2 separate regions of the Homo sapiens genome follow, and region 1 is reported to be linked to region 2. The links are microRNA targets in miRTarBase. Many come from high-throughput screens and were not tested one by one. Region 2 holds a microRNA gene; the other region holds the end of a gene's coding sequence.
What was found. Region 2 holds the annotated microRNA hsa-miR-4299 (GCUGGUGACAUGAGAGGC, at 1,871-1,888, shown strand). A microRNA usually pairs through its seed, bases 2 to 8, with sites in the 3' UTR of a target mRNA and lowers its output. Matches are read on the target gene's strand: a 7mer-m8 pairs with bases 2 to 8, a 7mer-A1 pairs with bases 2 to 7 and ends in A, and an 8mer does both.

Region 1: miRTarBase lists NUDT16 as a target of hsa-miR-4299. The part of its 3' UTR that is shown has no 7-base or 8-base seed match.

What each region holds. Positions count from the first base shown.
Region 1 is chr3:131,382,608-131,386,607 of GRCh38, reverse strand. It overlaps NUDT16 (nudix hydrolase 16), which reads right to left. Exons shown (of 3, transcript NM_152395.3): 3 at 1-3,446. The coding sequence ends at 3,267. Among named protein-coding and RNA genes, the nearest start is that of NUDT16, 2.8 kb to the right of the region's middle. RefSeq lists an enhancer at 3,826-4,000.
Region 2 is chr11:11,654,025-11,658,548 of GRCh38, reverse strand. MIR4299 (microRNA 4299) reads left to right here and starts at 1,827; the gene lies at 1,827-1,898.

The sequences.
Region 1 (4,000 bases), not on the chromosome of region 2:
CAAAATGTGCTGTGAAGCAGGAAAGTACATAGCATCCTGTACTTTCATACCGCTCAATGCATCTCTGCAAGCTTATCCCAAGTGCTGCCTCATCTGATCTCACCACAGGAATCACAGCAACATTTCAGATAAGGAAAAGGAGGTCAAGGGCTTGGGTCAAAGTCACCACAGCAGTTAGTGGGGGTCAAAGATTGCAATGAGCATTTCTCTTCTTCCTGCCCCAGATGATTGGACTTAACAAGGCCAAGGAAAGCTTAAGTGGGTCATCATCCCTGGCTTTCCTTAAACATCAGCAGGGTGGGAATGGCTAACAGGAGGAGAAACACAGAGTGTGAACTTGTATCACCCCCCACCTGCCTACCCAGAGACTGTCTATGTGAGTGAGATGAACACAAACCCCAGTACAGTGAAACACTTTTATGAAGGCTGCCTGAGAGGTAATCTACTGACTTGGAGAGTATGTTCAAGGGATCATATAGGAAAGTCATGGGCTCTTCCCCACGCAACCATCTCCAGAGACCTAAATAAAAAGCAAATTTAATACGAATAAGTGGACAGATGAGCTGCCCAGTAGGCAGGCACTGAGAGACTGATCAGTGGGATACTCAAGCAGAGTGAGACAGAGCGGAACCTTCCAAGTGGTATTAGTGTTGACCTGGATTACATCCCATAATGAGTTCTGGATCCAGAATTACCTGAGGGAAGGGGTCTGTTAGCAGTGCCATAAAGGGTCAGTGGCTCTGATCTCCCAGGCGTCAGGGTCCCTTGCAGAGATGACTGAGAACCAAGTGCACAAAGCACAGATGAAGCTGCTACAGGCTGGAACCCCAGGGGCCACTGGAATGTCCATTTCCTGCAGCCTGCCTATACTGAGGTTTAATCTAGATAACGTTTGACAAAAGGGTCAGGGTAAGATTAGGAGATGATAATTAACCTCTAGGAGTCTACCTCATTGTACAGCTGCTCCCCCACTGGGTACTCCCATTCTTCTAAGACCAAGGGCTGCCAGTGGGACCCACACTGCTCTGCATCAAGCTTCCAGACCACTGCCCACCCTCCCTTCCTCAAAAGGCTCTCACCTGGGAGATGCTATCCTGTCATGCCTGCTTTCCCCTCTGGCAGGTGCCACTGGCCTTGTGGCCACTCCTCTTGTTCACCAAGGATGCTGACTCCTAGGTCACACCATTCTCCTCAACATCTGTCGGTTTCTTGCTTCAGCACCCATGTGGAGGCTCACCCTGCCCTCCAGCCTCGCCAACCCTAGATTTCACTTCTTAAGGCTCCTCCCTGGCTCTGGCCAGCAACCCCAGGTCATACCCTCTATTTTGCCTTTACCTGAGATTGCTCCACCTCTCAATTTCCAAAGCACTCCTGTCTGGCTCAAATATACCTCCCTGCCCAACCCCTCACCATGCTGGAGTTTCTATCTTGTCAAGACCTCTAATTTCCTAATCCCTCCCTAGTCACCTCCTGTTTTCAATTCCAATTTCTTGGTCAGATTAAACCTTAGACTGCACATTTCATCACTACAATTTCTCCTGTGTATGTCTTCTGAACTGACCCATCTTTCTCTCAACTCCTTTTACTTCCCTGGCAAAACCCCAACACTGCAGTAAGTGTACCCATCCCAGCTCCTGAATCCTGATGAGGGGAAGACAGGTGTGTGCAGAGCCCCACTCAACACACACACACCTGAGTGCCCAGCATCCTACTCTAAACTGACCATCTCAGAGCTCAGCCTTGCCCTGCCCTTCTGCTGTTGCCTTAATCAACCTGTTTTCCAACACCTAGGAAAACATCTACTTCATACCTTCTGAGAACACACTCCACCCACAACTAGCTGATAGTCTCACTTCATTTCACAAAGAAGAGATTCAAACTCCTTCATCATTTCCCCATTAATTTAGTCATCCTAATCTTCTATACTTGCCCCTTTCTGTTTTATTGAGCCATATGAGGCTGCAGGACTGTGTCTCTTCCTACAAAGGTCCCATCCCTCCTTCTTTCTCATGGACTCTGCTCCTTCAGGGGTCCTCCTCTTTGTGCCCCTCCCATCTCTCTCATCACACCATCTTGACTGTTGCCATCAATATTGGCATGCTCTACCTCCCATCTTAAACATGCCTTGACTCCATAGCTCTCTATTATTAACCTGAGCCCCTTGAAGGCCAACTTCTCACACGTTCTACTCCCCAACTTTCCATTCACTCAACCAGTACAGCCTGCCTTCCATACCGCCCTTCCTGAAACTGCTGCCATCATAGTCATCAAACACTTCATGTTACTGAATTCAATGGACAGTTTTGCCTCTGTTTTAGTGAAACCCTCACAAGCACTCTGCATAGTCCGCTTTCTGTCTTCTTTAACGTGCCTGGTTCCCTCTGCCCAAACTTTTAGGATTGGGCCTCCTCAGGGCCTTGTCCTGAGCCCTCTTCTTTTTCTCTCTCCATGGATTACCTCCTCCAGTCTATGTTTTTATACCACCTTTATGTAGATGAAGTGAAGGCAGGGTGGTGCTAGACTGGGGTGGGTCAATTCCCTTCTGATAGTCTCGGAGTCTCAGGCATCCCAAAGATGAAAGCTCTAGAGGAGAGACACCAGTCCTCACAGGACTCATGTCCATGCTCAGTCCAAGGAGACCTAGCCACTTCCTTACCCTTCCTGCTCAGTTTCAGAAGAAAAGGATTGGGGATTGGTTGGGCTGCTCTCCCACCTTTTAAGAGCCAACTGCTTTGGTCACCACTCAAGACAAGAGCAAGTCTATTTTCAGAAAGCACAGGGGGTGCTCTGTTTCTCTATCCTCCCTAACAAATAGGCTGGGCTAGACCCTGGAGGGCAACCATGGAGGAGTGTGGGAAGGATTCACCCTTGCTTCAGAAGCTCCTTGCAATCAGGGACCAGGGTAGTGTGACAAATGCCACTTCAAGGTTAAACTGGACATGACCAGGGGAAGGTGTCAGGCTGTGTGTTGTTACAGATTGTATATTTGCATGCCTGGGGGTTACCAGGCTGTACGCATATAAACAGGGAGGAGGCAGGCTCTGAGAACCTGCCAGGGTGCCTGGGATAAGCTGTGACTTTTTGCCCCTGATGCCATAAGTTGGAGGGTCCTCTGCTCAAAACATATGGTACACACTTCTCCTTCTTTTCATCTGGTATCATGTATCATCTCTCAGATCCAATAAGAAAACATTCCCACGTCCTTCCCTCCCTCCCTAGTACCAAGGTCCTCATCTCAGTTTTCATGGGTCCATGGAGGGCTGCCTCTAGTGATGAGCTGGAATCTTAAGGCCTGAAATAGAGCCAGACTGCAGCAGTCCCAAGTCCTGGAGAGCTTCAAGTAACTGCTCCCGCGCAGAGCCAATAAAGGAATTCTCCAGGAAGGTAGGCAGGCCTCCTACACCATCCCGCAGGGTATACAGGGGCACTCGCACCAGGCCCAGCACCTGTAAAAGGAAGGAGACAGGAGACACTAGGGCCCCAGGTGGCTCATTCCCTTAACTCCATCCTTTCTCCAGCAGATCAGGCCTCACCCCTTAATACTCCAGCAGAACCAGGCCCAAGGCTCACACCTCACTAAAGCCTAGTGGCCCAACCTTCTGCAGGAAAATGACCCAAAACATATTATCTAGCTCTATCAATTAATCTTTCCCACATCTGCTTCTAAACCTCTAGTGGCTACTGCCTCAAAGATGTATTCATACCCTTTCACCAGTGGTTGTCAAAATGTGGTCCTCAGATTATTTGCATCAGCATTATTTGGGAACTTTTGAAAACTACAAATTCTCAGGTTTCCTCTCCCCCCGCCCCACCACCAATGCAGGAATGCTGAGAGAAATCGCTATTTTAATAAGACGCCCCGATGATTCTGCTACCTGCCAAATTTTGAGAACCACCTTCATACATAATCTATCTACTAGCCCTGCCTGAAATATCAGGGCCACATCTCCTACACAAGAAAAGCAAACCCCAAGAATAAAACCTAGGTTGCCACACCTAG
Region 2 (4,524 bases):
ATGGCCTGGAAGGGCCAAAGCAGGACTCTCTAAAATCTGGGAGCCAGGGCAGGGACCCCTCTGGCCTAAGAGTGGCCTTGTACATTGGACTAATCCCTTAGATGCTAGATCAGGATGTGCTTCTTGCTTTCTGAGTACTTTTTGTGATTTGATGTTCAATATCTGTTTCCATGGTTATCGCCTCCTCGCTCATCCTTCTCAGCTCCTGTTTTCTTTCATCACTAATCTTGGAGATTTTCCTAAATGTGCTCTCTATATTGCAGATGATATTTTTTGGAGGGTCAATTTTGCTAATCATTGTCATTTATTGTCCTTTAGGGCTATTTAAAATGTTTTGCTACTTTATTTTTATTCCATTGTAACTTTATGTCTTTTAAATTTCATCCAGTTCCCTTTGTTTTCCAATTTTTAACTCAGCTGAGTCTTTATTTGTGATTCTTTTAGTCTACCTTACAGAGACCAAGAATCTTTCATGATATTCAAACATCAAGCAGGCTTCTAAAAATTTATTCTGTCTCTGATAGTAAATAGTTTTTTAAAGAAGATAATTTTGATTTTTCTTTTTATTTATTTCTATTTTTTTAGAGACAGGGTCTCACTCTGTTGCCCAGGCTGGAGTGCAATGGTGTGATCATAGCTCACTGCAGCCTTGAACTCCTGGGCTCCAGATCTTCCTGCCTCAGCCTGCTGAGTAGCTGAGATTACAGGTGGGCACCACTGGACCTGGCTTAGTCATTCATTTTTGAGAGGAAGTTAAACAGACTTTCTTTCATTTTGCTGACAGTTTAGTCCCTCTAGGGTCCTGGCATCTCGCCCTCACACATCTTGACATGCTGGGTGGCCTGAGGAGTGTGGTCTCTGCTCTAGTGTGCAGAGACATGGCACCCAGGGGCCCTGGCTTCCCTGGGTCACTATGCAGATGGCTCAATGTGAGCCGTTCTTGCTCTCTTTCAGAATTCTTTCTTGCGCTGCTAGTAAGGAAACAGGTGCTTTCCTCCTGGGCTGGCTGGAGCACTCCGTGTTTCCTGAGCTGGATAGATGTCATGGCCACATGTCATGTAGACCCTTCCTGGAACACAACACAAACTCGGTGACTTAAACCAACAGATATTTACTGTCTCATAGTTCTGGAGGCAGAAATCCAAAATTGAGGTGATAGCAGGATCATGTTCCTTCTGATCCTGTAGGAGAGAATCTTTCTTTGCCTCTTCCTAGCTTCTGGTGCTTTGCCAGCAATCCTTGGCATTCCTTGGCTTGGAGCTGCATACCTCAGTCTCTGCCTCGGTTGTCACATGGTATTCTTCCCTTGTGTACCTGAGTCTCTGCAGCTCTTCTCTTCTCACAAGGACACCAACCATATTGGACTAAGGGCCTACCCTACTCCAGTATGACTTGTTTTAAGAAATTACATCTGCAATGACCCAATTTCCAAATAAGGTCACATTCTGAGGTATTGGGGGTTAGGACTTCAACATATCTTTTTTGGGGACCCAACTCGATTTATAATAAGTAATGTTGTAGTGGGTGTCAAAATGAAGGTTTGGGGATATCATTAAGAGGGTAGGGCTAATTCATGGGGAATTTACGGTGCATTTAACCAGGAATCCTGGTAGGTTGTTGGGTGGTTGAGGAGTCAAAGTGAGCTTTGGGTTCTGCTATAATGACATGATGGCCAGGAACACAGGCCTGCCTAGATGCCAACCCTTCTTCCCACTAGATTATTCTCTAAGGAAGGTGCCCACAAGGAACAATGGTCAAATAGGAAACAAAACACCACCTACAAAACTGATCAAGCCTATTAGTAAAATATGGTCCATTGATTGTTTGGGTTCTGACCAATCATGTTACAGTGTTTTCTCCTTTAGAGAGAGCTGGTGACATGAGAGGCAGAAAAAGGACCATGGTGGGGAGGCCCTGATGTGAGAAGGTTGGTGGCAGGCAGGAGAACTCTAGCCACTAGTTTGAGGGTCTCTACTTTATGGAAGCATAGGTCTGAGAAAGGGGTTCTAGGTGATGATAGCCCTGTTCTTTGAACCAGGGTACCACATGAAGTTTCAATCTGGGCACGGGGATGGGTTCAGAGGTGCTCAGTACTGTATGCTGAATCTGCATCTGTAAGTCAGAGGAGACCAAGACTTCACTCCAGAAGCTGGGCTGGGAGCTGATTAAATCTCTCTTCCAACCTCCAGTTAGAATAGAGAGAGGCATACATGTATCCAAATGCAGTGTGTGTGGTTGTGGGGAGATGGAAGGGAAGGGAAGCCCAGATCCAGAGACTGGAAATCGAGTGAGAACCTGCCCTTTTGTCAACATGTTCCTTCTGTCGAGCATTCTTTATATGGTCCACAGTTTTCATCACTTGTTCAGTCATTCTGTGTCTCTCTCTATAGCTGTCATACTCACTTGGCAAAACTCCAAGCTGAATGTACTCAACCCATTACCTGCCAGAATTTGAGCAACTGTATGTTGCTGGAGAAAATCACACAAACTGAGAAGCTTCTTTTTAAATGCATAATCTCAACCCACCACTTGGTATTCAAACTGTAGTTAATAAACTTGCTTTTCCATCATTTAGGATGCTATTTCCTACCTTTGCCTATCTTCTCAAATTCCCTACTCCATTCCTGCACCCTTCACTCTGATCTAATTATCCTGTTTCAATTGTATTTAATTAAAAAAATTAGAACCATCAGCCATAAATGCCCCTAGCTTACATCTGAGTTCATTTGGGTCTTCTGCTTCTGGTCCTTCTGGTATAAAGGTGAAAATATGCTGTTCCCACCCCAGTTCCTGGAGCTGGATACTCCTGGAGTTCTAGATCCTGTCCTTTCTTACCTTCTCAAGGTTTTACTCCTCTGGCTATCTCCTATTCATCCTAAATTACCAATCCTACCCTCTTCTCTAGGGCTAGTCTCTTCAGTTCACAAACACGATTGACATTCCCTTAAGCCTAAAAGTCCTTTTTTGATTCCTTCATCCCTCTTCAGCTACTGCCCATTTCTCTGCATCGCTTCACAGTTTAACATCTCAAAATAGCTGTTTACATACTTGTTCCATGGTTTAAGCCTTTAATTAGTTTTCAGACTCTCGAGTTGGGTCTCTGACTTTAACACTTCACCCAAACTTCTTGTGTCAAGGTTACCAACAATCTCCAGGTTGCCAAGTCCAATGGACAATTTATACTCTCATTTTGCTCAGTTTCTCACTTGAGTTGTATCCCAGTGGCCACTCCTTTATTTGACAGTCCACCTTTGGTTTTCTTCCTTTCTCTAGATCTCTGACAATTTCATCCCAGTCTCTTTTATAGGTGCTCTTCCTGTACCAATGTCTACATATTGCTTTTTTTTTTTTTTTACAGTGCTTATTCTGTCTGCACTCTCTTCCTAAATGATTTATTTTCATGGCCCAAGATATCATCTGCATGCTGATGTTGTCTAAATTTATATATCCAGATCAATCTCTCCTTTGACCTTTAGATACACATATCCAACTTTCTACCTGCCCTTGCTGCCCTCACTCCCTCCTCCTTCTTGTGGTCCTCAATGTCTGTTGTTCATATCTTTATATTCATGTGTTTTCAATGCCAGAACAGAACTCTTGATTTTCTTTCCCCTGTAGTATCTTCAACCAGCTCCTCTCATAGTTTACCTATTCATTTTAGTAAATGGCAAGACTCTCCACCCACTTGCTCAAGCCAAAAATGTAAGTCTTATCCTTTATTTCTTCATTTTGTTGTTGTTTTTTTTTTTTTTTTTTTTTTGAGACAGAATCTCTCTCTGTTGTCCAGGCTGGAGTGCAGTGGTGCTATCATAATTCACTGCAACCTTGACCTCCTGGGCTCAAGAGATCCACCCACCTCAGTCTGCTAAGTAGCTTGGACTACAGATGCACACCGCCTTGCCTGGCTAATTCAATGTCTTTTTGGTTTGTTTTTTTTTTTTTTGTAGAGAGGGGTTCTTGCTATGTTGCCTAGGCTGGTCTCAAACTCCTGGGTTCAAGTGATTCTTACACCTCATCTTTTTAAAAAATCAATAAATCCTGTCATTTCTATCTCCTAAGTATATCTTAAGTCTGTCTGTTGGCTTCTGTTATTCCTCACTAGTCTAAGCCTTCAGAATCTTTTTCTTGGACTATGGCATTAACCCCTTTACTGGTCACCCTACTTGTTCTTAAGCTCCCTTCAAATCTATTTTCACAAAGTGATCTGAGGAATCTGTAAAAAAAAAATCAAATTACATTTTTTCCTTACTTTGAAAACTCTTCAGCAACTTCCCATTACACTTTTCATATTGAAATATAATTTATATACTATAAAATGTGCAAATCTTATTTTGTCTATTCAGTGAGTTTTCATGATTATATACACCCAAGTAGGCACTAGTGAACACAAGGCTGTCTTGTAATAGTAGTCTGTTCCTTTTTTATTTGCCTAACAAACAGTAATCCATTTTATGGACATACCACTATTTATTTGTCTATGCTCTTATTGATGGACAATTAATTTTTTTTCCAATCTTGGACTAT